Linked DNA regions of Homo sapiens: regions 1 and 3 are each linked to region 2. Evidence: fine-mapped expression QTL. A gene starts in region 2. Each other region holds a variant in brackets. All regions are shown on one strand. Distances are from middle to middle.

Region 1 (6,484 bases), 22 kb after region 2:
GAGGTTGTGGCCCACAGGGCAATCGCAGGAGAGGTTGTGAATAATTCCCAGGTGATGAGTGTGCAGCTTTGAGGAATTTCAAAGGGTTGCTTGGCGTCTTTTCCTGAAGACACTTCTATAAGGTATTTAGAAATCTATCAGGAGTGAGAATCAGTCCAGTCAGAAAATTTTAGGCATTTGGGCAACTGCATTCAGAAAACAGCTATTTATTTGGAATGCATAATAAAAGCCATGAGACTGAATCTCCATGCCTCTTTGCCCCCTAGTAGCCTTCAAGAAGTCTCTAAAACAGGGTTACCACAGATTTAGCCAGGATGATGTGTAGCAGCTTTTCTTGGAACAGGTTGATGGATTAAAATAACTTTTTTTCAGCTCTAATGTTTTTTTCTTGAATTTGCCAGTCACATGATAATTTTCTTCAAAAATAAAACTTTATAATTGTAATGAGGAACTGTCATTTATTCTTATAAGTTGTATTTTTAGAAGTCACTGATGTGTCTTGCTACATATTTCAATTCAGGATCCAGAAGTGCTTTGAAAAATGTCATCTCCAGTATGCTAGAACACATCTTAATATTAAAAACAAGGCTTTGGCTTTTAAAACCATTATGCAGATACCAAATATATATGTAATCTGACATTTATACTGAAGGCCAGTAAGTAGAGGACAGTTGATCCTTGAACAACACAGGGGTTAGGAGTGCCAAGCCCCCAAAACGGTAGAAAATTTGAGTGTAACTTTTGACTCTCTAAAAATTTACTACTAATAGCTTACTGTTGACATGAAGCCCTACCAACAATATTAATAGTCGACTGACATGTATTTTGTGTGTTACATATATACTGTATTTTTACAATGAAGTAAGCTAGAGAAAAAATGTTAAGAAAAAGAAAAATAATATTATTAAGTGGAAATGGAATCATAAGGGTCTTCATCCTTGCCACCTTCATTTTGAGTAGGCTGAGGGGGAGGAGGAGAAGAAGGGATTGATCTTGCTGTCTTAGGGGTGGCAGAGATGGAAGAAAATCCCCGTTTAAGTGGACCTGTATAGTTCAACTCTGTGTTGCTGAAGGGTCAACTGTACTTTTAAGGTAACATCTCACAGTAGGATTTATTTCTAGTTAAGCAGATGCACAAATACTTAGATCTCTCATTTTTCCCAAACAGGTATCTAAACACCATTTTATAGATAGCTGTCTACTAAAACAATAAAAGCAAAACTTCTGTTTTCCTGTTTCAGTATATTATAAGAAACGTTTATTTATGAGATGGAGTCTCACTCTGTTGCTCAGGCTGGAGTGCAATGGCACAATCTTGGCTCACTGCAACCTCTGCTTCCGGGTTCAAGCAATTCTCCTGCCTCAGCCTCCCGAGTTGCTGGGACTACAGGCACGCGCCACCACGCCCAGATAATTTTTGTATTTTTAGTAGAGACAGGGTTTCACTATGTTAGCCAGGCTGGTCTCAAACCCCTGACCTCAGGCGATCCGCCCACCTCTGCCTCCCAGAGTGCTAGGATTACAGGCGTGAGCAACGGTGCCTGGCCACTGATTCTTATTTTTAAAAGTGACTTAACACAGCTTGTATTGTTCCTTCCAGGGAGAAGATAATTATAAACATTAAGGAAGGAGTGTTAATTATTGCTGATAACTTACACAGCGTAAGAATGAACTGTAAGGATCTTGTTTGAACAAAGAATTGTATTTTGATCAGTCTTTATACTACATCTTGATACAGTTCTTTTTTCTAAGCATCCACTGTAGAGGAAGAAAGTGGTTAAAATACCTATTAATGATTGCAACTTATAACATGGATAGGAGACAGTCTTCCTTCAAGCTTACCAAAGAATCTCCATGCCATTTTGAGTAGTTGAGACACAGCCTCTTATCCAGACAGAACTAGTTTTTTGTGTGATAGCTTACCTACCTAAACCTGTCCCAAGTTTGCTTAATGAAATTGAAACCACATGAAATATCCAAAGCAAACCTAATAAAGGTGTTCTGCCGCTGACTCGGGCTGGACCCTTGTGGGGCTGTATGTATGCGACTTGGTAGGTGTTTGCCTTAAGTAGTCTGTTCTGTGGGGCTGAAGCATAGGCCTGGCCATCTCAAAGCCTAACATCTGTCAGGCCCAGTCTGTGACGTCACTGACAAGGGTGAGCATTTTCTTTGGGGCACCTTCAAAGTACCTTCACTGTGCATCTCTTTGGAGTGAATAGCACTGAAAGCATGATGAACTGTTACTGCCATTCAAAATAACTTTCTAGCTAAAGGTCAGGACTTAAACTAAAGGTTCAATAGTAAGACATAGTTATGGTAGCAAATCTATTATTTATTAATCAGATGCCAAACTATGTATTCATGGAAACCTAAAATTTGATGTGTTAATACACATCTTTGCATAATCTTTAAAAATTATTAAGGCAATAATTGGAATTAACTTCTTTTCTTTACGTTTGCATGGGAAGGCCGTATTTAATATTTAAAAGCATACACCATTTTTGAGCCCTTTTGCAGAGCCTTTTTAGATATAAAAATTAATGCACCAATTAAAATGTTTATTCCTCTAATCACGTTCTATTACACTGTAATAGAGTTAGCCTAGTCTGAGATATATGTATTTGGAATTAATAGAATTGAAATTTTCAATACTCTGAAGCTCTTACCTTTGAAGAATTCTAGCCATCACAATCCCATTCAACATAAATGAGAGTGGTTTCATACACAAATACAAAAACTGGGACTGTTCTGTTTTCATGTATGTACTATTTTCTCCATAAGTGATTAAAGGTTTACATGTGATTTAATATTTAAACTTTGGTAAGATTTTTCATAGAAACAAGGAAAAATTTCCTTTGTCCGTGTACATATACAAAATTTGTTTGGTAAGCAGGGTTATCCTAAGTGGATACAAAGAGCTTCATCTAAATTAGAAATTTAGTCTCCAGTCATACTTATGACTCAGCAGGAGCCAATAAAATAAAAAAGGATTAAAATGTCTGAATTTTTAATTCAAGATGTTTTGTTCCAGAAATCAGAAAAATCACAGCCTCTGTATCTGGTATTCTGTCTGCTGGGCATCTCATGGAGTGACATTTCCGTACCCTCCAGTAGGAGAACAACAGATTCCCATACAACCTCTGCACATACTGAAAGTTCTTGACGTATGTTCTGAGCCATCAAAATAATCTCTATGCTGTGTAGATTGAAAAGTTGATAATAATCCATTCACAGTAGACAGGTTAACTCTACACCTAGAAAAACTCATTTCCTGACCATGCGATTAAGAGAACAAAACTACGATTTATTAGCTATACATAGTAAAATATGATTTTATCTGAAAAGGTGCAGGAAGTTTAAAAAGGAAAAAGGATCAAAAA[T/AT]GATGTGCCAGCGTGACACTGAAGTGGTCTGCAAAGTCCCCATCTGCATATTTGACCTGCACGCCCCAGGGTGGCTGATCCCTGTCTGAGGGTGTCAGCTAGACGCAGAGTGGATGATGCTGGTGGATTCTAAAGGAAGGTGTCATCTGTCAGGGACAAGGAGCCATGGTTATGCCACACAGCTGGTACCCAAAGGGGACTTCTGCTTTCCTTAGAAGAGGGTTGAAGAAAGGGTTGGTTAAAAAGTGAGATAAAAAGTAGCAGTGCGCCACACACTTTAACCTTGTGTGTTCTGAGCCACGAGTGTTATTTTTCAGATTGATGAGAGAATCAGCACGTGGTGTTCAAGCCTCAGCGGATAATGCCAACAGCTGCTTCATCCGGACAAAGTGATCTCTTTAATCACGTTTTTAAGAAGAAAGTACAGTGTGCACTTTGACAAAAATATTGCAGATTATGAAACGTGACTTTTAACATAAAAACAATTTGGGCAGTACAATAAATGCAAAACGTGCTGAGACTCGTACTGTGTTTGTCTACAGTTTTTATGTAAATCAATACCCTCACCGCCCAGATAAAACAGTACACCCCACCATAAAGCTGAGCAAAAGCTGAAAGAAATCTCTTCACAGACATTTTGTGAGCATATACACAAAACACATGCTTTTAAAAGTATTAGACTTTGAAGCCAATTTCTAGTTTGCTCATTGACATAACTGTTCCCAACAGTCTCCTCTCAGCATTACATATAAAGTAATAAACCCCGACTTTTCATTTATAGGTAGTTCAAATCAAATTTTGTTACAACCAACACCAAAGACCTATCAAAGATCCACAGTCACATTGGAACTTTGGTTGGATCAAGTGTTGTTTGGACGAACGAAAGCCTTTACAAAGGGCTACGGCTCTCTCTACTACAGAAATTTAGATTGTGACAATATTTAGATTGTGAAAATATTTAGTCAATACTCTCATAATGACTAGTGACTAGAATTTAAGAATTACAAAAAGAGGAAAGTATAGAAAAAAAGCTAAAGTCAAATTTATTTTTATTGCCTTTGTCATTCAACAAACAAAAAAAATTTAAACTGATAATAATTAAGATTTAAGTTTTCCTTTATACATAGTCATCCAAATTCTGTATGGATGAATTACTGAAAGCGGAATTTGGTCTACCTGCTTAACAAGAAGCAATATAAACATTTTCATGTTTTCTCCTTCAGTTCCAGAAAGTTAAACTCTTTATAATAGTTATAAACATAGGAAACTGGGAAAAATTAGGAAATTTATTCTTTAAGGTCACTTTCAATTTCTGTTGCTTTTCAGATTTCATACTGTAGCTTTTCTGAAACCTGATTTTTGGCATTCTCAAAAATCTACATCACATTTCTTGAATCATGTTATTATCATAAAATTTTATGTCAGTTTTAATTTGTGTTAAGCAGAATAAATGTATTTTTATATAAATATTTTCATTTAAAATAGAGATTTTTGGCACAGAGTCCTAAGCCTGTAGTTTTCAAATTGCATTCTGTGCTACTTTCCCTGAATCAAGGAATTGTGCTCCTATGAACTTGTACCTTGTGTATCTAACCTTTGCTCTGTCTCATGCTCAACAATCCAGCAGTATTCTAAGACTTTAGAACATGAGAAAAAAGTGTAGATTGACTTCTCCTTGCTGGTGGAGGTGGAGAAGGGGTGGAGAACAACTGCTGAGGATTTTTGTCTTAATATTTTCATGTTCTCCTCCTGATAATACTGTAGGCACTTGCATCCTTTGGGGTATCTTCAGTGGGAAATCAAAGGACTGTGAGTGGCTTCATTTAATTTCTACACTCAGAAATGCAGAGGCATGTTCCAGTCAAGTTTTAAAGAATTATTTAGAAAAAAAAAACAGGCCAATAAAATCTACAGTTAAGAGATAGAGAATCAAATATTAATCTTGAATGCTTATGTTCCACTTCTTTTCTTTCTGCTGTACTTTTAAAAAGTACTCTAATGAGTAGAATTCAATTTTATATGAAAATTCTGAGTTACTATATTATCGAATGGGGAGAGGTAACAAATTACAGACTAGTGCAAAACAGTAGGACTCCCACATTCTCCAAAGTGCTTCCTGAATAATATTCAAAACTTGATATCTCATCAACTTGTGCAATGTTAGAATATTGTGTCTACAAACTTTCTTCTTTGTCTGCTTGGAGCCTCTAACCTGGAGGCTCAAAATTCAAACAACACTCTACAGAAAAATTCTACTGAAGCAGGTGATCATAGATCAGCATAGATCACCTGCCTCCTCCTCCTAGTATTGCACAACATAAAACCCACCAGCAAGTTGTAACCAGGTGCTGCCCTGTGGCCCTACTTGCCACATGGACCCTCATGGGTGGAACTTCATCAAAAGCTGCTCCCAAATCTGTCAACACAGTAAGCTGGTGGATGTCTGGGCAACCTTTCTCTCTGCACCATTTAAACAAGAAGAAGAAATGGAATTTAGATGTCACCCCCAAACACACAGTAGACAGAGGAACAAGTTAAAAACCAGTAGACTCTCAGTAGTTCATAGGAGTTCTGGGGCCTCCAATCTGCACTGCAGGAGTCAGGCCATTCCTTCTGCATGACGTTCCGATTGTTTGCCCAGTTTGAGTCATAAGGTGTCTCTGCTTCCAGCTGTGCTCTTCACTTACCGGCTGCTCCATCGGGTCAGGACAGGGAAAAGCTTCCACGCTGAGCTTAGGAGTCACCCCCGAGCGCCATCCTTCACCCCTGGGAAAGAAAGCTGTTCTCGATACTTTTAGTGCCATTCACTTAACAACTGATTACAGATATACATATTTTTTCATAAATAAAATTTGAAGCATATAAGTAATATATTAAAATCTTCACCAAGAAGGATGTGTTAAAAATTTCAAGTTCTGTCATTCAAGTTCAATAAAGGCACACATTACCATTTTTTCTCTTCAGGCCAGCAAATAATACGATTGCTACCCATTAGTCACAAAAGGTATTTTGTGGGACTATTTTTTATTCGATTTTCCTTTTCTTCGGATTTGCCTCATTTATCCGTGGCATGAATCTGTCGCCCTCCAGAAGTATTTAGATGC
Region 2 (10,581 bases):
ACACTGGGGACTACAATTCGACATGAGGTTTCTTGGGGACACAGATCCAAACCATGTCAGCAGTGGACCCATATGAACGCTATACATCAAAATTGAGGAACACTGAGCTTGGGGTATTCATCATTGGTAGGCTTTCTGTTTATTTCATTCCCAGGGATGCTATAATCAATTAGCCATAGTCAAAGATCCCTGCAGGTCAAGGCATTCTGGTGACTGGTACACTCCTGCTGACCTTAAAAGTAAATGTGTCCACCTTGTCTTCTGAGTTTAAGTGCTATGACCTGGCCTCTGATAATCTGGAAATCTTTTCCTCATATAATCAGAGAGCTTATCTTAAAGGTGGTATCCTCTATGGCTATACCTGGCCTACAAAAGAGAGCAATCGCAAATCTTTTCAAAACTGCAAGTGCATCTCTCACTAATACATTCCTCAGTGCCTTAGTGCAGGAAGTGTCGTCTTGGCCTCTTCGTGGAATATATTTGAGTATTAGGCTTGCAAGTCATACATAATAAATCCACTCTGACATTGTCATTTTTCCAAAACTTTTGGAGTCCTTTATCCACATTTTGCCAGGAAAACTCTGGCATCTGAACATCATTAAATATAGGCCATCTTTGAGTCTAAATTTCAACCAACTGACTAAACTACTAGAGCTGCCTCCAGCTGCACAAGCTAACATATTACATCGGTATATGTTGTAAATGCATCTATACTAGTGAATTCTGCCTAATTTAGTGTTATATTATTCCCTTTTTTTGTCTGACACCCTTAGAAATCTCTCCCCCAGGTTTCTAAAGTTTACATTGATTATATATTAGCAGAGACTTCCAAATCTTTTATTATTATTATTTTTACACAGAGTCTCCCTCTGTTGCCAGGCTGGAGTGCAGTGGGGCGATCTCAGCTCACTGCAACCTCTGCCTCCCGGGTTCAAGCTCTCCTGCCTCAGCCTCCCAAGTAGCTGGGACTACAGGCGCGCACCACCACGCCCAGCTAAATTTTTTGTATTTTTAGTAGAGACAGGGTTTCACCATGTTGGCCAGGATAGTCTCGATCTCTTGACCTTGTGATCTGCCCACCCTGGCTTCCCAAAGTCCTGGGATTACAGGTGTGAGCCACCGCGCCTGGCCGTGACTTCCAATTCTTTTGGCGTGTATGAGATGTCCTCCTAGGTTATAATGTGTACCTGTCACCAGAGCATGCTAAAATTTCACCCTAGCTATGTATTTAGTAGCCACAGTGAGTGGTTTTAATGGGTTAACATGAGCAGCCCTTTCAAGGCGCCTTTCCCAGATGAGTTACTCACAAAATTTCAAGCACAAAAAGACTAGTTTCCTCAGCTATAGGAGAGCAAACTAGTTCTCCTGCAAAGGAGTCTCAGAATAACTTGGGGGTTCACGATTGACAGTTTCACCTGGATTCAATTATATGTCTTAATTCTAAGTATCAGTATTCCACTTCTCCCTATTCAGTGCCACCTCCCATGAGAAACTTTGCAACACTGAATTTAACAGATCTCAGAATTAGCAACCTACACAAGTAAATTGAGATTTTGAGCAAAATCTCAGTAAAATGTCAGAGTCTTCTTGATCCCACAGTGAAAGAGGAATAAATAACAAGTTCTAAAGAAAAGAGGGGCTAGTCACTATTGTTAACATTTATTACTTACCATGTGTCATGGGCTTTGCTAAGTAATTTAAAGGCATCTTTTGGTGTCATGCACTCACTTAATTCCTTTCACTGCACTCAGAATAAACCCCAAATCTCTGTTATGGCCTTCTGGGTCCTAAATGGTCTGCACTCCTGCTGACCTCTCAGTTTGATGAGGAAGTTTCAGCCACACATATCTTCTTTCCACTCTTCTCAGCTTACATGTCACCTCCTCCAAACTGCTTTTCTAAAGTAGCTCACTCCCCACCTCATTACTTTCCACATCAAGACCGTGCTTCTTTATATTATCACCATATTATTTTACTTATTTTATGCTTTTTCATTGCATGTTTAGTATTTTTATTTATGTTTATTTACTGCGTGCTTATTATTTTTACTCCATGAGACTGTAATCTCAACTCAGGCATAGACCATCTATGGTTTGTTCACATTGCACTGCACCAGAAAGGATCTTAAGAAGCATGTGTAGAATTCTCACACCTCTAGAAGTTGGACTACATTATTTCCTACTGCTTTTTAAATAGGCAAACGAAAGCTTGGAGAGCCACGTTAACGTATCCTAGGTCTGTCACAACCAACTGGTGGCCAGGGTCTGTGGATCTTCAAGCTGGAGTTGGTCACCTCCTAGCACAACTCCATAGGAGGAAGTGAAGCTCAATACAATTCCCTCCTGTCCTCCAACGATAGGGGCAGCAGGGTCTGTACCCAGAGGAAACAAAGAGCATCATCATTATCATCACAAACTGGTGTGTGCTTACCGTATTGATGATGTGCCCAGTCCCCACCTTGCCTGAGACCAGAACTCCCAGCCAGCACCGGCCACGCACCCGCGGAGCTGCCAGGTAGCACCCGCCCCCTCTCTCTGCGCAGGCGCGCGCCTCCTGCTTCCGCTCGGGGCGGGGCTGGGCTCCCGGGGTAGGTCCGCGGCTGCTGCTGCGTCCGACCCCCGGCCGGCGCGGGTATGGAGCTTGGGGGTCACTGGGACATGAACTCGGCCCCGAGGCTGGTCTCGGAGACCGCAGAGCGGAAACAGGAGCAGAAGACAGGAACCGAGGCGGAGGCTGCCGACTCCGGTGCCGTCGGAGCCCGCCGCTTCCTGCTCTGTCTCTACTTGGTGGGCTTCTTGGTGAGTGCGAGCGTGGGGGCTGGGAGCAAGTGCTGACTGTGTTCGGGCCTGGGGACCCAGGCGGTTCTTGGAGCTTCCGGGGAGCTCCCAGGGAGTGGGAACCCGCAGTCCGCCTGGTGAGTGCCTCACTACCTATCAAGCTCTCCTCTTGCCCTATCACCCACTTCAGTCTGCATCTGGCCACACTGCTTTATTGCCCCTCGCGCTTTCTCTTGCACCCCGTTCGCGGAACGTCTTCCCTTCCCTGCCTTTTGAGAAGCCCTGGTACCAACCTCAGGTGTGACCAGGTGTTAAATGCTGTGGCAGGTGCAGCTTTTGCAGGGCGGAGAACAGGGGTGTGGGCAAGCTTGGAAAAGCCCAGCTGCTGTGCGGCTGCTGGTGAGGTAGGGACACGCAAGCCTTTTTACCAGAACAGGCAGGGGAGGCCGCTCTTGACCCCGCTTGGACAGATTTAGGCACATTTTCACTAGGATTCTTGGTTGACTTAAATATTAAAAAATGCAGATCAGAGTGAATTTTACCCATCTGCCTTTCGACAAACTGCGCATTGCACAGCGTAGGTTTGGTTTCATCATGATGTGTGTGCCTGTGGTTTGCTTTTTTACCAGACCAGGCTGGAGAAGCCGCTGTTGATGACCCCACTTGTACAGAATTGGGTGCATTTTCACTAGAGCTCTCGGTTGACTTGAATGTTTAAAAATGCAGATCAGAGTGAATTGTACCCATCTACCTTTGGACAAAGGGTGTGCATTGCACAATGGCGGTTTGGTTTCATCGTGTGTGTGTGTGTGTGTGTGTGCGCGCGCGCGTGTCCTGGTTTGCTCCCTGAGTGCTAATTTCCCACGTAGAATGGAAAGTTTAGTAAGCTGATTCATGGCATTTCTGAACACCTGCCATGTGGCAGGTGCTGCGGAGCTTCACTATTGTAATCCACAGTTCTGCCACAGAAGAATTCAGTCTTACAAGTAAGCTGATGTTGGTAGTTTCTGGGCCATTATCTGCAAGAACCCTAGATCCACCTCTGCACTCCTCCCTTTCCAAGGCTAGGCCTGATTCAGCCCTGAGTGTGAGCTAATCCAGTATCTTGAGGGTAAGGAAGCTGCGATAAGTGTCAATGGGAGAAGGCTGCCTTTGAGGCCTTGAAGATAGTATCTGATGGCACTGGGCCCTGGCAGGGAGTCATCGTTTTCTGCCCAGATGCAGATCAAGACCACCACTTCTCCCAGTTTCATGCACTCTCCATGCCACCACCTCCATGCAAGGCGTTCAGTTGGTAGCAACTCTATGTTGAGTTAATAGTTAAGATCACCATGAAAGCATGTTCATCAAATTGCTGCAAGCCCAGAAACACAAGGTCTTCAGGGAGGGCGGCTTTTTAGAGAGGATTTCTCTGCCTCTAGGCCATTGCAGGATCCACCCTCCAGCTCCATGCCTTTAACTTCAGAGACTGGCACTCCTTCTGACCACTATTCCTTTAATCTAGTAGTTCATTCTCAGCATGGGGATGCTTCTTCTACTTTTCAGTCTAGGCACCTAGAATTCACAACCAGTGAGTATGGGTGGTTCTTGGAGAGGAGTTGGCTGACATCCAGCCTTTTTAGTTATGGGTCCCAAGCTACTGCTGTCCTGTCTCAGAAGGGACTTGGGCTGGTTCAGCCAGATGAAAACATTTGAGCCCTTACCTGGAAAGTCCAGACTAGGGTTCAGAGAATTTGACTTAGAATTCAAAGTAGTTTTAGTATTAGAATAAAACAAAGCAATTCGCAGATCATTTGTTAAGGTCAGCCTTCCAATACAGATTTGAATATTCACAATTTATCATATGTTTTCTTTATGCTGTGTATTTGGCAAGTCTAATCTAGCAAGCCTGATACAGAATTTTAATAACTTTAATAATGTATTCAAGAGAACCATTAGGTGTCTCATATCTTAAGGGAAAAGTTTATGGTTTCCCAAAAGTTGAAAGAGTAGGGATTTTTTTAATGGAAAATATTGTAAACAATTAAATATATGAAGCTTTACATGAAAGTCACATAAAGCTACCTAACAGATGATTGTTAGGTAACATCTAAGGAACATTATACATAATTTAGTTTTTTTTTGACATATTTAGGGATGTAGAGACCTCTAAGATTCTTGGACAAATGGTTTCTGAATGGGAGAGGAAGGGAACAAGCTTAGAGAAGTCATTTGCCAAATTGTTCTGTTTTAGCAGTTATCCGTACTTCCAAGTTTTAATTTGTTTAGGAGGGAAGACCAAGATGACCCTTGAGGCCCGTTTTGTTTAGGATGCTTAGATGGTGATGAGATCTATTATTTCAACCACTTTTTTCCTCCAGATACTTGGTGAGATTTGTTTTCCATCCCATCAGCTTTATTCAGGTGATAATTCATTTTCATTGAGATAGTCCAGTAATCAATAATTACTGGGGTTCCTACCCTGAAAAGAGTCTTGAAACTTTTGAGTGTACATATTCATCAATTTTTATTGAAAAATGTTGATATTCAGTGAAAGTTTAAGTGGCCCCTTCTGACATGATCTTTTTACAAGTGGTTACATGCACATGACCAGATGCCAAATGCAGCGATTTTGAAGAAGCTATGGATTGAGAAGCAGAAAGGAGTTGCCTTTTATAGTAAAGGAGAAGGCAATTTTAGAACAGAACTTCCTGAGAGGAAAGATTCAGTGGCCAGTCTCCTTGGAAGAATATAGTACTTTTCAGACTCACCAAGTGCTAAAGTAATACCAATCATCAGTTATTGCCTTTGAGTCTGTATTTTCATACTTACCTTCCATAGAGCTCAGTCTCTTGACCTAAATATTTCTCTCCATCTCTTATTTAGGATACCCATTTTATTAAATGATATGTTGTACTGGGACTTTTTTTTTTTGGAAAAAAATGGTTATTGGACAATTGAGTTTCCTTTTCTGAAAGATCCAGAAGATTCAATAGGTGGCTGGTACATTTTGAGTCTTTTAAATGTGTAAACATCAGTGGGCTGATGAGATGCAACTGACAGCAAAGCCCAAAAGAAATGGACTCAGACCCAAAGGAAATTTTAAGTAATGGCAATATTGAAATAATAAACCATCACTCTGGTAATGTAATTTTAAGAGCTAATTATAGTCACTTGATATTAGATAACAGGGTCATCTAAAGATGTAACCATGGAAAAGGCCCACTGAAAAGAGTATGTGGAAATTTATGTATCTATAGTTATATGAATGTACAGCTACCAGGACAGGGAAGGGGGAACAAAAGATTAACTCTGAGCTCAAGGAAAATACATATTTCATGCGAGTTCTTTCTTTCCAACTAACCAGCTGTATGAAAGAAGGAATTCAGGTCGAATATAATGAAAACTGTGTGTGTGCAATGTTTTTTCTCCCACTAAACCAACTGTAGCAGGTAACCTAGTGAGAATAAGAACAAAATTAAAAGAAAAGTTAACAGTCTGTCTATTAACTCAGAATACCTAGCAAAAAGGACCTGTCCTTATCCCCAGAACTGAAGAAGGGAGAAGACATGTTTGAGCTTACATTGTTTTATTAGGCCTTTCTCAAGCATTATGCCACTTAATGCTCATCATATTTCTACCAGGCAGGTATTACTGTTCTACCCTTTGCAGATGACAGCACGGAAGCTTGGTAACTTTAAGTAGCTTTCCAAAGACACATGTTTAGTAAGTGATGGAGGTGGAATTGAGAACTGTCTGCCTGACCCCAAAGCCCATTCACTTTCTATGACTTAGCTGCAAAACACTGGCCTTTCCCTAGTGCACCAGCTTCTTCCTTCTTGCTTTACTGAGCCTTTCTTCTCAGGTATTATTTTATAAGCTTATAAACTACAGGTCCTAGGACATTAGCCACTTTCGCCAACTCCAGAAGGAAACATATTTTTAAGCAAGTGCTGGTTCACCAATAAATACAAATTATGACTGCATTTTTTCTTATGACTTATCCACAGAAAATATGGGGTTTTTTGTCTGTTTTGTTTGAGGAACTTCTGTAGCATATCCTCCTTGAGTGTAAAGTTAAAACGGATCCCAGGTCAGACTAATCCAGGCATTTGCAAGTGGCAGCGGATTTGTATGGCATGCTATGGAATCCAATTATGATTTCTTACGTGTTTAAAATTTTAGATATTGGTTTTATTTTTTAAATTAGTTTAAATTTTTAGGTTTACTAGTTTGAAAAATACTAATTTGAGTCCATCAGCATTTATTTTGTTTTAGGATTTGTTTGGTGTCAGCATGGTTGTGCCTTTATTGAGCCTTCATGTCAAGTCCCTTGGAGCAAGTCCAACAGTTGCTGGAATAGTAGGTGAGTGGTCGATATTGCTCATTTTTAGAGCACTGAATTTTAAATCCTCTGAACCAAGTACCTGAAAACAATTCAATTTTGTATCCAAATATTATCCAAAGGTAAGTGGGAAATGAGATAAAACAAATTTCCAGAATATTTTAAAATATTACCCTATAGCAAATGCAATTCCTTTTTTTCTAGACGACGTATGTTCAAAGAGATTTTGAGATTTGAGCACTATAACCAAGTCCCATGCCACTAGTGGCAACAGGTACTTATGGAGCCTCTGCAAGGAGCTGGCTGTGTGTATAAAAGGGTAGGTACATGTGGACTCCTGCCTACAGGAACCCTTAACCTAATGTGAGAGACCAGGGAAACATAATCTACAGAAATCACATCTCGTGGGAAAGGGTTTCGGTGAACATTAGCCAATTAGTTGCAAGCTTCTCACACCGTCACCAACACATCATAGATATTGTAGAGTTTCTCTGCCTGTGCAGCTTAAAAATTCCATCCAGAAGTCATTGATTTACCAAAAAGGCAAGAGACAGCAGGGCTTAGGACTATGCTAACTAATGGGAAATTGTTGAGACTAACAGCTCTTGATCATTCACAAGCCAAACAAGCAAGTGTTTGTGGACAGTCTTGTACATAATATTTGTTAAATCATGGTCCATGCCGTGATTTGTATTTCCCTCGACAAATGTACTTGGAATTACACTGGACCACCCAGCAGTGTGAAGGTTTTTGGGAAAATCAGATAGGGCACATTGCATGATAATGGAGGTAAAAGAGCTCTGTAAAAAAAATATAAATTCTTTATAAAATAAATCATTTTATAAAACCAGTACACATTAGAAATATAAGAGACAATGTTAAGATTTTAAGGCTTAGTAGGGTTTTTCCAGAATTTAAATTTCTATTCCCCTGAGTACTCTCTATGCTGTTTCATAAGTTGAAGCTACACAATCTCATATGATGGAAGGACAATCATACAGCGTCCATAACGTCACCTTTTGCCTTTTTTCTCTCTTCTGTTTACCCTCAATTTTTTGAAAACCTTTTGTTAGAAATTGTATTACTTCCATTTTGTTAGAAATTGTATTACTTCCATTTTTCCAAGTAGAAAAAAAAAAGATGTGAGATAATTTAAAACAAAAAGGTATCTTACCCTAATGTTTTTCTGTTGGTTTCTGTGTAATTGTTATCACATTAATCCATTTTTGTGATAGCTCTAGCTGATTTTATTGTTATTGATTTGTTTTTTACAGGCTCCTCCTATGGCATTTTGCAACTCTTTTCTAGCACATTGGTGGTAAGTTATGATCACATGTCTCATCCATCACAGATGTAGTAAAATTGGGGACTTGAAGTTTATCAAAAAGTGATAGATTTGGGATGAGAACACCTTTAAATTGTAATATGTTCTTCCTACAATTCCCTGCTTTTTACAGACAAAAAGAATGTAAACAAAAGTTATTATCAATTTTAGGCTGGGCGCGGTGGCTCACGCCTGTAATCCCAACACTTTGGGAGGCTGAGGCGGGTGGATCACGAGGTCAGGAGATCGAGACCATCCTGGCTAATACGGTGAAACCCCGTCTCTACTAAAAAAAAAGATACAAAAAAATTAGCCAGGCATGGTGGCAGGCACCTGTAGTCCCAGCTACTCGGGAGGCTGAGGCAGGAGAATGGTGTGAAGCCGGGAGGCGGAGTTTGCAGTGAGCCGAGATCGCACCACTGCACTCCAGCCTGGACGACAGAGCGAGACTCTGTCTCAAAAAAAAAAAAAAATGTTATTACCAATTTTATTATTTATTACACTTCATTGACAGTAATCAAATCCATTTATATTTCTGCTATTCTATTTAAAGTTGTGTATTTTGAACTAAATAAAAGCTTTTTTATAAGACTTAAGTGTATAGACAGAAGGGGACATTTGGATTGGCTGATTGTATATGTGCAGCATGGAGTAGAAAGATCCAGAGGTGGCCAGGCATGGTGGCTGGCATCTGCAGTCCCAGCTACTCAGGAGGCTAAGGTTGGAGGATCGCTTGAGCCCAGGAATTCAAGTCTAGCCTGGGCAACATAGGAAGGAAGACCCTGTTTCTAAGAAATCAAAAAAAAGAAACACAGATTCAGTGGCGACCTTGTCAGTGCCCTACTTCTGACCACTCAGTTGTTTGAATTTCAGAGACCTTACCTGATGTCCCCTTCTCTCTCCCTGTAATGTCTACTGTGATCACTCTGGTCTGGAGACCTCAGCGTCCAGTGGTTCAGGCGGTTCAGTAGAATAGTCTATTTAGTCTCACAATTGATCAGTAGTGACTTTGGTCTCAATAGCTGGCCTGGGGGTCTCATATTTAATGAACACAAAGTGTACTTATGTTTCCCAAGAGTTGCTTCCTTGTAAAATATATTTTTAAAAGAAATTCAGTCAGATTCCATAATAAATTCTTAAATAAGTAAACAGCTACTTCCTGATTTATTGAAGTATTTCATATATTAGATTTCCATTACAATAATAGTTTTAGCCTCATTTAAACTTTATAGTAACCCAGCAAAGTAGTTTGGTATCTTTCTTTTATATAGGAGGAAATTAAGACCAATTAAGACCCACATAGGTTAATTTGACTAAGCTACCTAATTTCAGTATTTAGACTCTAAGCCCATATTATTTTTTTTCTAAGAGTCATCTGTCATTGCCTTAATGATATAAAATGGTAAATAGGTAACTAGAGTTATCAGATTGTACAGGAGAGCAGTGCACTTGCTTGTCAAGCAGAATGTCGTATTTCATGTTCTTTCTTGTGAGAGAAAAGTTTGAGTTACATCTTAGTAAACACCTTTTCTCTTTATTTGTAAACTCACTCCCAAAATATCTGATGTGTGTATCTGTTAGAGCTATTAGGTCACAGTGTATGTTAATTCTTTTAATGTTTTCTCTTCCTGGACTCTGGTCTTCCTGAGATACAGACCAGGCTTACTTGCTTAATTTTTTTATACTCTTACTTATCAGAGTACCTGGCAATAGTTAGCACTTTATAAATGTAAATTTTTATTGCTAACTATGACTCTACCCTTTTTTTCAGATTTTCCTTTGTTGTTTTATGTTTGTACTTACACAGAACATTTCATATGTCTTTTAGCTGAAATTTAATGAAAACCTTTCTTAGAAAGCCTTAAGATACAGAAATTCCTAGTTAAAATTTCCTTTTTAACCCATACTTCTGTAAGCACATATTTTAATTATAAATTTTACCAAAAAACTTTTAATTTTGAGAACAAATCTTTATACAGAAAAAGTATATTCTGTCAGATTTGGCTAATGTTTTTAAATAAATGTATTTTAATAAAAAATGATCCACTTATTAAGTACCTATGTGTCAGCCCCTGTTTTGAGAACTTTATTTCCTCTAATCCTTATAATAACCAGCCTCAAAGGGTGGTTATGGGTCTTTAATGACTCATTTTATA
Region 3 (11,246 bases), 36 kb after region 2:
CTTTTTTCAACTGGGTTGTTACATGAAGAGAGCTGGTGACACTCCCCACAATGATTACATCCCAGTGTTTGAAAAGTAAAATTTCTAAACTAGGGCTGTACATGGAATCCACTTTTAGTTTTATAGGCTATATAGAAATGTGTTTCCTAAATCATAAATAATAATTAAATTCATTTCTGATAGAATAAACATGTACTTCTTGGGAATATCCCTGTGTCCAGAAATATATTAGGTTCTATTGAGAGATGCAAACATAACACAGAACAAGGCTTCATTCCTGCCTTGAGCAGTTTACCATCTCACTGAGCATCTAAGGCTAACAAAATTATGCAAAATCATGGAAATAAGTGCTGTATCTACATGGTACAGTATAAGCTCCAAGTGCTATTCCATTTAACCACAAGGATGGGAATAATATGGTGGCTGTTGGGGGAGCCTTAAAAACTGGAGGCTTTTGACCAGCTGACAGGAAGGTGTGAGATGCTCCCAGGGGACAGCGAGAAAGCTACCTGGGCCAAAGAACGAAAACAGAACCTCTCACTCCCTGGGTGTTTCAGGGAGCAGATGGGTGAGGCAGATGTGGAAATATGGTTGGATAAAGTGGAACTTGGAAATAGAGTCCAAATTTTCAACGAATAGTTTAGCTTGGGAGCCACAACTAATGTTTTGTTTCATTTTAAATTAAAAGGTACTGTAGGAAAAAGGGTCAGGTAAGAGTCACGTGGATGAAATGGGGACACCTTATGGGGACACCAGCTAAGAAGCTGCTGAAACAGCCCCCACATGAGCAAGGAGGACTCCTGACAAGCTGTGTGGCCCGTGTGCCACTTCACCTCCCTGTGCCTCAATTTCTTTATCTGTGAAATGGCGACAACAGTAACACCTACCACTCACTGGAGGATTAAATGAGTTAATGCATGCAACACACTGAAATGGGGCTTGGAAAATTGAGGACACTCTCTACTCTGTAGCTGTGTTGTTAGCAAATTATTAGAATAAGGTGCTAACAATGGAAACGAAGTGAAAGAAGTGGCTCAGAAGAGAAGAAACTATAGCACTTTATAAATAACAAGGAGGGTGAGGTCCATTTTTAAAGTCTAAGCTATAAAACTATTTCTTTAAAACAAACAGCAATCAATTCATTTCTTTAAAATTAGTCAACGTGTATTTCTTTGTATCCAAGCCCACAGCAGCAGAACTCCCAGGGGACCCCAAGGCTTCAGCCATGGTGTCCAGGAGGATAGTAGGACCCTGAAGAGGGATGGAGAGAAGCAGAAGGAGAGAAGATGCCCAGCATGGGACCTGCTGAGCCCAGTGTCAAGATGCAGCCTCCAGTTACAGCACAAAACCAGAAGGCATCCTGTTAGCCAAAGGTAAGTAAATATTTTGCTACATAAATTATTCTTACTCGCTGACGGATTTGATAGAGATTTCTTGATAAGAGTTCTCGAATTTCATCAGTTTCACTGGACGTGACCTTCCTTATTTTTTCTTCACGACAATCACTGTGAAAGTTTAGAAAAAGAATATTTTACCTTTCAACAAATATTAGAATCATTGATTTTCTTCCTTAGAGATATAAGTATTTAAGACAAGTCTTAATTTGTAAAAATAGCACTTAGGGATTATTCAATAACTTAAAATAATTCCAAATTCTGTGACTCTTATTTCAGTTTCAAAATCATTCATGGCAAGTTTAACAATTCACAAGTTTTCAGAATCTATTCATGTCATTATGTTTTCAGGGAAGAAAAACTACAATGGCTTATAATGCTACCTCACTTTATTATTTCTAACACTCCATAAATAAAGTAAAATAGAATAGTTTTCTCCAACAGAAACCTAATTGACTTCAATTTACCATTAAGTTTTCATATTTTAAAAACCTCATCATAAATATTTGCAAACACACCATTTATAACATGTATGTATATCCAGTCAATCCTCATTTGTGGGTTCCATAATCATGAACTCACCTCACCTACTTGCTAATATTGATTTATAAACCCAATATCAGAATTTCAGTATTTTTGCAGTTATTCTCAGACATATGGAGAGTGACAAAAAATTTGAGTCACTTGACACAGTTTCCCTGAAGATGTTGAACAAGGAGACATCTGCTTTCTTGTTTCCACTCTCATACTATAAATAATGTCCTTCTCACAGTCTATTTAGTGACATGATTTTTTAATATTTTTATGTTATTTATTGGTGGTTCTGCTGCTTTAAATGGCCCCCAGGCATTGCTGAAGTGCTGTCTAGAGTTCCCAAGCACAAGAACCCTGTGATGTGCCTTATGGAGAAAATTTGTTAACTAAGCTTGATCATACATGAATTTATAGTGTTCTTGACCATCAATTCAATGTTAATGAATTAGCAATATATATTAAATAAGGTGTCTGTAAACATAAACATACATAAAATAGGTTACATATTGATTGGCTGATGAAAATTTTGTGACCACAGGCTCAAAGGAACCTAACCTTTATGTCCCCATAGAAAAATGATTCAGTATTTGCAGCTGGGCACAGTGGCTCATGCCTGTAATCCCAGCACTCTGGGAGGCCGAGGGGGGCGGATCAATTAATAATAATTTTTTTAAAATTATTATTACCAGTTTCAAAATACTATCAATGCCTATTTAACAATACTAACTTTTATTTGCAAGACCATACTTACTTTAGAGATGCAAATGTAGGGACAGTACTTATCATCCCAGTCTCTGCCATCTCAATGGCATGTTTTATTTCAAGCTTTTTATATAAAGATACAATACTTGACTTTGGTTGGTTTTCCCGAATCAAAAGCTTCCGCAGATATTTATCATCAAACTTCTTAAACCTGTAAATAAAGAAACTTTCAATAAATTAATACTGGATTGACTAAGAAAATAGTTGTTGTTTTTACCAATGAAGTCATTTCTGCCATTCCCAGGAAAATACTTAGTAGCAGCATTTAGCTAATCTGGTCATTTTATATATTTAGTATGTGCCTACCTGTATATATGTATATGTGTATGTGTATATATGTATATATGTGTATGCGTATGTATATGTATGTGTATGTATACATATGTATATATACATACACATACACATATATGTATATATGACACATACTGCTACATTTTTGTATATGACCCTGATGCACATAAATCTAGTATTCATTAATTACAGATTAAAATACATGTTTCTGTCTTTACCATTTCTCTACTTCTGCTTTTAGCGAAATTGCTCAGAAACGTTATCACTGTTTGTTTTCCCCAATTCCTCTCCTCTGATTCTCTCTTGAACATTCACATTGCCTCAATACTCCATTAAAGCTACTCTTATCAAAGTGGTCTGTGAACCTCATGATATAACTGCAGTGGGCAATTATGAATCCTCATCTTTCCTGCCCTCACTTGTGTAAACTATTGTCTTCATTTGGCTTCCAGGACACCACCCTGGGGTACCCCAACCTCCTTCTCACCCTCCCTCTCAGTTTTGTTTTCTTCTTTTGACCTGTTAATGTAGGAGTGCTCTGGGCCTCGGTTCTTAATCCTCTTTCATACCGCCACTCACTCCCGTCACCATCTTGCCCAGTCTCCTAGCTTTTAATAGCATCTCTATGCCAATGACCCCCAGATTTGTATCTCCAGCTCCAACCTCTCGGCCAAACCCCAGATATGAGCTTTTGGCTACTTACTCAACATCTGCAGTTGGATATCTATGGGGCATCCCAAATTTAACATATTCAAACTGAACTGATATTCTGCCAGAGTCCTCCCATCTCAGCAAACGATGACTCCACCAGGTCAAAAATCCTGGTGTCATCCTGGATTCTTCTACTTTTCTCATGTTCTATGTTATGGGCTGAATTGTGTCCCGCCAAAAATTCATATGTTAAAGTCTAATCCCCAGTAGCTCAGACTATGACCACATTTGAAGATCTAGTGTTTACAGAAGTGATTAAGTTGAGGCCATCAAAATGGGCCCAAATCCAAAATGACTGGTGTACTTATAAAAAGAAGAGGTTTGGATTCCAAAACATACAGAGAGAGGGAAGATGATGTGAAGAGGCAGGGAGAAGACAGCCATCTACAAGCCAAGCAGAGGGGCGTAGAACAGAACCTTCCCTCGTGGCCCTCAGAAGAAATGAGCCCTGCTGACACCTTGCTGTCTGACTTCTAGCCCCCAGGATTATGAGACAATTCATTTCTGTTGAGCCACTCAATCTGTGGTACTTTGGTTATGGCAGCCCTAGCAGACTAGTACTCCAAATCTTTGCGCCATCAGCAATTTCTGTTGGTTCCACATCAAAATACATACAAAATCCAGCCATCTCCCACCTCATCTAATGCTATCACCCAGGTCCAAGACATCATTCTCTCTCGGATTCTTGTAGTGAGCACCAAATTGGCATTCCTGCTTCCACCATTGCATTCCTACAGAAGCCCAAGTGCTCCCGTTAAAAATATGTCTAATGATGTAACTGTCCTGCATCTTCCTTGGGTACAAGTACAATGGTCTGTGACTTCCTACACAATCTGGATCTGGCCCTCTTGGTACTGTGCCCCTCTTCCTTAGCTGCAGCGTCACTGGTGTCCTTCCTATCTTAAAGACTTACCAGCAGTGCTCCCATGTCTGAGTCTTTATACTTACTATTCCTTCTACTAGGAATCCTTTTCCCCCAGATACCTTCAGGGCTCACTTTTTACACTTCTTTTAAGTCTTTCCTTGACAATCATTTTCTCACAAGTGCCCTTCCTATCCATCCTGTTAGAATTGCACACAACCTTCCTCCCCCAGCAGTCCCCATCTCGCTGCCCAGATGTATTTTTCCCCATAGTAGTTATCACTTTCTAGCATGACATACAATTTACTTGTCTTACTTTCTGTCTCCTAGCACAGAATGTAAGGTCTACATGGGCAGAGATTTTTTTTTCTGTGTCACCAGTGCCTGGCACACTGTAAGCACGTGTGGTAGAATGAATCATTTGGTCCCAAGTCCTCCCTGTATCCACACCCTCTGCCATATTACTTGGCAATGACCTTCCATCATGGCA[C/T]AGATGACTTGCTTTGCCCTGTTCCTTGCCAGCGTGCTCAATAATGTTCCTTGCTTTGGTCAGTGGGCTATTAGCAGACACAATGAAAGAAACAGTGGCTTAACCTGGGCTTGCACATGGAGGCTTACCTCTTGTGCTTCAACAATCACTATTAGAAGGATATGCAGAGTGGCTCCTTAGTCCGAGGACAAAGGTGACTGTCACATGGAGCAGAGTCACCTCACTCCAATCACACCAGATAGATCTAGCCAGAATCAGCTGGCAGCCAGCCAACCCACTGGAGCACATGAACAAGCCTGGCCCCAACTGGCCAAGCCCAACCCCAATCAGCCTCTTGACTCATGCACTTTAATAATAATGACGTGTTCTGAGCAGCTGAGTTTTGGGGATGGTTTGTTATACAACATTATTATGCCAATACATAAGTGAAGCAGCATGCAATAAATATTTGTTGAGAAAGAAATAAGTGTACTACGTGATCACCACAAGCCCAAGGAGGTTTATAGACACACCTGTGCCGTGGAAGGAATCGATGTTAACCTACATTCTTGTTGATAGTCCTTTGTTCTAAATACTAGAGGGCTCTGAATAATTAAAGAAGAGCCATCCTGAATGTGCTTGGTTTTTGGCTGGCCACTACACTAAGGACTGGGTTTACTTTTCTCTACTTTTAATTGGAGTTTTATGTTAGGCCCATTGGACCAGGACTCCTGACAGCAACACATCTTTTAAAACTTCTTTTATTATTATTGTTGTTTTAGCTTTTCACTAGAGAGAGTAAAAGGAAGAACAAGCACCAAGAACAATGGCATCTGCTCTATTTCGTGTAGGGATAGTGCGTTTTCCTTGCTTCATTTCCACACCTTTCATTTCTCTGCTAAGCTACACATAGGCATTCTATTTCACCATCATTAGACTGCTTGTGCCAAGAGTGAGAAGGGTCCCTACTGTATCACCCTTCGTTTCATTCTCAAAGGATCAAATGCCTCAAGAATTCTCTGGCAGAACCACTGGAAATCCACAGCATAAGGATTCCAGAGAAAAGGGAAGACACCCAACATGCCTGAAACAATCGCTTCTTTTTGATGCTGATTTTTAGTAACATTAACAATCACCAAGGATGTGATCTCAGCAGAACACAGTTTTAAGAAGTCTTGTGTCAGCACCACATCCCCCCGCACCCACTTCCCTGCTCTACCTGTGATATACAGCATCTATGATGTCTATGACACTGTATATCATAGGTAGAGCAGGGAAGTAGGTGCGGGGGGATGTGGTGCTGAAACTTTGAAATTTTCCTGGAAAAAAAGTTGTGCGTGGAAATATATCAATACTTACAAAATTATTAAAATAAGTGTATCCACTGCAGTGGCAAATGCTAGCCATGTAACATTACCTTTCAGGCATGGAGCAAGGTTGGCTCTCCCATCTTTAGGACTTACAGCCAATTAATCTGGCAGCCTTTGGATGTGTGCTTAGGGCAGATTCATGGACTCCAGAGATAATGTCTCTGCCTGAAAGACAGACGTAGCCAGACTTTCTCTGACATTTCTTCTCCTGAGTTCCAGGCCAAACCCAAGTGACCACAGCATCTACCTCTTCTGACAGTGCCCCAGGACCAGGTGGCCTCATTACTGTGTGAGGCCGATCTATATTCCCCCATTTGGGAGGCAGAGGAGCACTAGATATCTTGAACCTAACACTCACTTTGGAAGGGGAACCAGCTGTTCTGGGTTACGCCTCTCATATGTCATTTCAGAAAAGTACTGAGGGGATGCTAGGGAAAGGGAGGATAGTAGTTGAGTTGAAAGGAACAAGGTAGGCAGAAAATAGGCATTACTATGAAAACAGTGGAGAAGAGAGGCAAAAAGTTCTGTTCTACTGGCTTAGCACAGATGGGGACTCCCTCATGCTAGGAATGTCCCAGAGTCATAGGGTAGATGTATAGGATCTCTGGTCTACCACCTGCCTCCAGAAAAGGGAATACTTCCCCTGAGAAATGGCCATTTAAAAAATAGTTTTACAATGGAGAATATAATTTGCTTAATTTTATTACCTTGTGTTCCCATGTAGCTAATTGGGCGTGCTCTCCATACAAACAAAATCTTTTTCCTTTCATTATATGGTAAGGCTGAGTCCCAGGGCCCTGTCTACAGTAGTAAACAGTGTTGTAAAGCTTGTAAAGGTTGTTCTAGCACTGAATGTCTTTGTCACTCATTATATTCCCTAATGGTCTCTCTCTCACACACCCATATATACACACACACAGGAGTCTGCTTGCTGTGTGACGGTTTTGTTGTGTCTGTGATACTACAGAATTTCAGAGGCCTGAGTCTATGGCTTATACTTCTTATGTAGCCCAATATTATGCCAGCATATATGAGCAAACAGGAAACACTAAAAAATTCCCTTGTGTTAAGTTGCAGACATTGGTAGGTTGGTCAATTTCATGTAAATTAGCAGTGGAGGGAAAAAAAATTCTGTTAGCAAGTTAGGAAAAATAAAACAAGAGGGATCTACCAAATATAGTTTAAAACGTGTTCTTCTGTCTTCAGGGATTAGCTTAAATGCTGCCTTCCAAAGTCTCGCCTAGCCAGTGATATGCTAATAAATGTTTAACAAATTTCTCTATGAAAAAAAAGGGCCTTGATTTGTAGCATTTGTCAGTTCCATGATATAAGCCCTGATTCAAGCAACCACTCTGGACAGTGCCAAATGTGCAGTCAGGAAGAGAGGTACGTGATGAGCTCCCACTAGCAAGTGGGGGCTGGCTCCTGTACCCCACTGCTCCTAGCTCTGCTGTCAGAATTGAACCAAATTTCTTGACCCATAATGCTGTTTCTCAGTTTATATTAAAGCATACATCTAATTCTGCCTGTCTGGTCTACCTTTTCCACTTCAACTTTAAGATCCTTGAAGACCAGTATTGAATTGTATTTATCCAACACAGAGCCTTTTACAGAATGGTAAACTCTGTGTGCCTGTAGGTATGTGCATTTATATAAATGTATGTAATTTTTCAGATAATTTTAGCTTTTTATATATATATTATATATATATATAATATATATATAATATATATATAATATATATTATATATATATACACGTTATTTCTGCTCATCTGTTTACATCCTTAGATGGTCTGAATCTCTGCATTTGACAAAGTCTCCCACCATGTGTGGCAAAATGGATAGTAATGGAAGCCCTAGTTTTCAGCCAAATAGATTGCATTCCTCAGCCTGCTTTGCAGACAGGAATGGCCATAGGACTGAGTCCAAGCCAATGATCAGAAGAATCATATGGCAGCTTCTGATGGTTTCAGTTAGAAGGCAGCTATTAATAACACATATGCTTTGTCTACTCATCATCTTTCATCCTTCTTGCTGCCTCTAATGGCTAATATTGATGCAGCCATTGTGGTTCAAGAGGCAACCTTGGAAATGAAGGCTACTCTTAGTGGATCGACTAGACAGACAGTCCTCGGACCCTGGGGGAGTCTTGGAGTAAACCTCATCTGTTAAACCTAAATTGCCTATCTCTGGCTATTTACAGAAGAGGGAAATAAGCTTTTACCTTGTTTAAGCTACTATTATTCCACATCTCTGTTATAGCTGAACTTTATCTTAGAGGACATACTATGGTACAACACAGGAAAGATTTCCAATTAAAAAATAATACAAATCAGTAAGTCCTGCTTTCAGAATGACCCTGGGCCACTTCATAACCCAATGGCATAAGACCTTCTTACTTGTCTCTCCAAAAGTTGTGACCCCAATGTCCACAAACATCTTCAATTCCAGTCTTCACATGATCAAACAACTAAAACAGAAAAAGCAGGCAAATTGATTAGTCTTTACCTGAAATCAATAATTTTCACTCTACTTGTATCATTTCTAAACTCCAAAGACCTTCATGGCTTTTGCTTCTTATTTGTTTATTATTTATTACCAAAAGCAATAAAACAGTTCATTTTCAAACAAACTGATGAAGTGTTTGTCACATCAGTATTAGGTAAGTCTTCGATTATTTTGCTCACCTATAAGTTTGTTAATAATTTTGAAAAGTATGAAATATGGTAATAATTTCCCAGTAGGAACATTTCCAGGCTAAAGGAAGTAAGAAGAGGGGACTTCTTGTCTCTCTACTCATGCAGGAGTTTAGTAAGCTAACCTGGAGAAGTTACCGTGGGGCCATATCTATTCTATACTCCCCCAGCAAATACCTTCTTCAGGCCCTCCTCCCTCTCACCCTGCCATTCCCTTCTTCTTCAGGAAATGGACAACGTGGTACCAAGCTGTTTGACTGATTCAAATATTTTTCCTTTATCATTAAAATTATTACACTCTCTTAACACCTACCCGACAATAGATTTCTTCACTGACAGCTTGTTGTTTCTTATTGGACCTCTTGACATCAAGAAACTCCACCAGTGGTCGAATAGTTATTCCCTGAACAGGAAACACAATTTAAGCATTTCATATATATTTATACAATTTATAAATTGTTTAATATAAAAATTTTAATATAAATTTTTTATAAACTACATTTTAATATTCAAGGGTAACTTCTCCTAAGCTTTGATAAGTAATGACAAAAGATATTTGGCTACCAAGATTTAACACAGTAAATGTAACTTTTTGTTAATTTTTCTTTCTTTTCAAATAGCTGGCATATTTTAAAAGGACCATGTCCTAACAAAAACAAAGACAAAATGGAAGAAGCAGAGAAAGTAATTACACAAAATAATAAAGTAGGCCAGATGCAGTGGGTTATGTCTGTAATCCCAGCACTTTGGGAGGCCGAGGTGGACAGATCACTTGGGGCCAGGAGTTCAAGATCAGCCTGGGCAACATAGTGAAACACCCTCTCTATCAAAATAATAATAATAGTAATAATAATAAAGTATTATCCAGTTCAGAGGAATCACCTACTTGTTGTATTATCCATAGAAAACTTATCAATGACTCCTTCATTTGTTCATTTATTAAAACGATTTTCACTGAGTTTCTACTGCACACATATCAGGGTCTTGGGCATTTGGAACCCAATGGTGAATAGTTAAGGACCTGGGTTCTAGGACTTTGCAGTCTTATACAAAGTCAGATACTTCCGAAAACAGTTACAAAGTAAGCAGAAGAGGGATGACAGGGCTAGCACAGGAAGCAGGTCAAGGAAAGCTTGGAGCAGAGGAGACACTGGTGGGCAGTGGTGGAGATGCTGGAAGCATATCCCAGTGGAGACCACAGCACAGCAAAGCACCGCAGTGAGAGGGGGCTTGCGGCCAGTCTGGGCACGTTCATGAGTGAACTCCGGAAATGTGGAGAACTATCAGCTCTTCAGTAAACTAGGAGGAGAAAAATTCCTTAATGTGACAAAGACATATGCCAGAAATCAATAGTGAACATATCACTTAAAAATGAAACATTATAAGCATTTCTATTAGAGCCAGAAATAACACAAGGATGCTCTGTCTGTCTCTGTTCAGCTCTCTGCCTCTCTTCAGCACAGTTCTGCATGTCCCAGTCAACTGAGAAGAATAGACAGATGAAGAGCTAGATGTATAAGTACTGAAAATGAAGTGACAAAGTTTCTGTTGCTCCTGGATGATTGAGTTTTTGTCCTAAAAAACCTGAAATAATATCTTTTCATTTAAAAATAACAAGAAAATTTGGTACAGTAACTAACACAAATTCAAAATGCCCAATCCATCCCAGATGTTAATTTTTAAATGAAACAGAATAAACACCTACAATAGCAATGAAAAAAACATATAAAAAGAGTGTGTGTGTGTATATATATATATATAAAATACTAGTATATACTAGTATCTAATAAGTATATGCTAGTATCTAATAACATGTTATATAATACACTAGTATTCTATATAGATACTAAATATGCATAGATATACTATCCATTATCTCTATATATGTATAAAACCCTATCATAAATGCATAAAACCTTTACAAGGAGAACTACACAATTTAACTGAAGAAGATTAAGGACATTTTGAGATATCAGGAAAAACACAATTCCTAGACAGGATAACAATATTGTAATGACAGTTTTCTCTCAACTAACATGTATCGACAACACAATTCCAGTGACATATTCCTGAAGACTTTTAACATAACTTGAGAGGCTGATTTTAAATCAACCTGGAAAAGTAAATGTAACCAGAAGATTTTAGAAAAAGG

Evidence for each region.
Region 1: its variant is fine-mapped to the expression of SLC67A2 in blood mononuclear cells (TOPMed, PIP 0.97).
Region 3: its variant is fine-mapped to the expression of SLC67A2 in whole blood (INTERVAL, PIP 0.95).

What each region holds. Positions count from the first base shown.
Region 1 is chr2:102,708,590-102,715,073 of GRCh38, reverse strand. It overlaps SLC9A2 (solute carrier family 9 member A2), which reads right to left. Exons shown (of 12, transcript NM_003048.6): 12 at 3,719-6,484. SLC67A2 (solute carrier family 67 member 2) reads left to right here. Exons shown (of 6, transcript NM_032718.5): 6 at 1-444. Among named protein-coding and RNA genes, the nearest start is that of SLC67A2, 25 kb to the left of the region's middle. RefSeq lists an enhancer at 6,280-6,484. The variant T/AT (reference allele first, on the strand shown) is at 3,381.
Region 2 is chr2:102,728,863-102,739,443 of GRCh38, reverse strand. It overlaps SLC67A2 (solute carrier family 67 member 2), which reads left to right and starts at 2,556. Exons shown (of 6, transcript NM_032718.5): 1 at 2,556-2,798; 2 at 7,035-7,122; 3 at 8,376-8,419. The coding sequence starts at 2,634. It also overlaps a transcript of TMEM182 not described here. RefSeq lists a silencer at 2,440-2,649.
Region 3 is chr2:102,692,665-102,703,910 of GRCh38, reverse strand. SLC9A2 (solute carrier family 9 member A2) reads right to left here. Exons shown (of 12, transcript NM_003048.6): 6 at 9,408-9,497; 7 at 8,798-8,868; 8 at 2,680-2,841; 9 at 1,409-1,505. It overlaps LOC124905954 (a long non-coding RNA gene), which reads left to right. Exons shown (of 3, transcript XR_007087163.1): 3 at 1,184-1,415. Among named protein-coding and RNA genes, the nearest start is that of SLC67A2, 39 kb to the left of the region's middle. The variant C/T (reference allele first, on the strand shown) is at 5,048.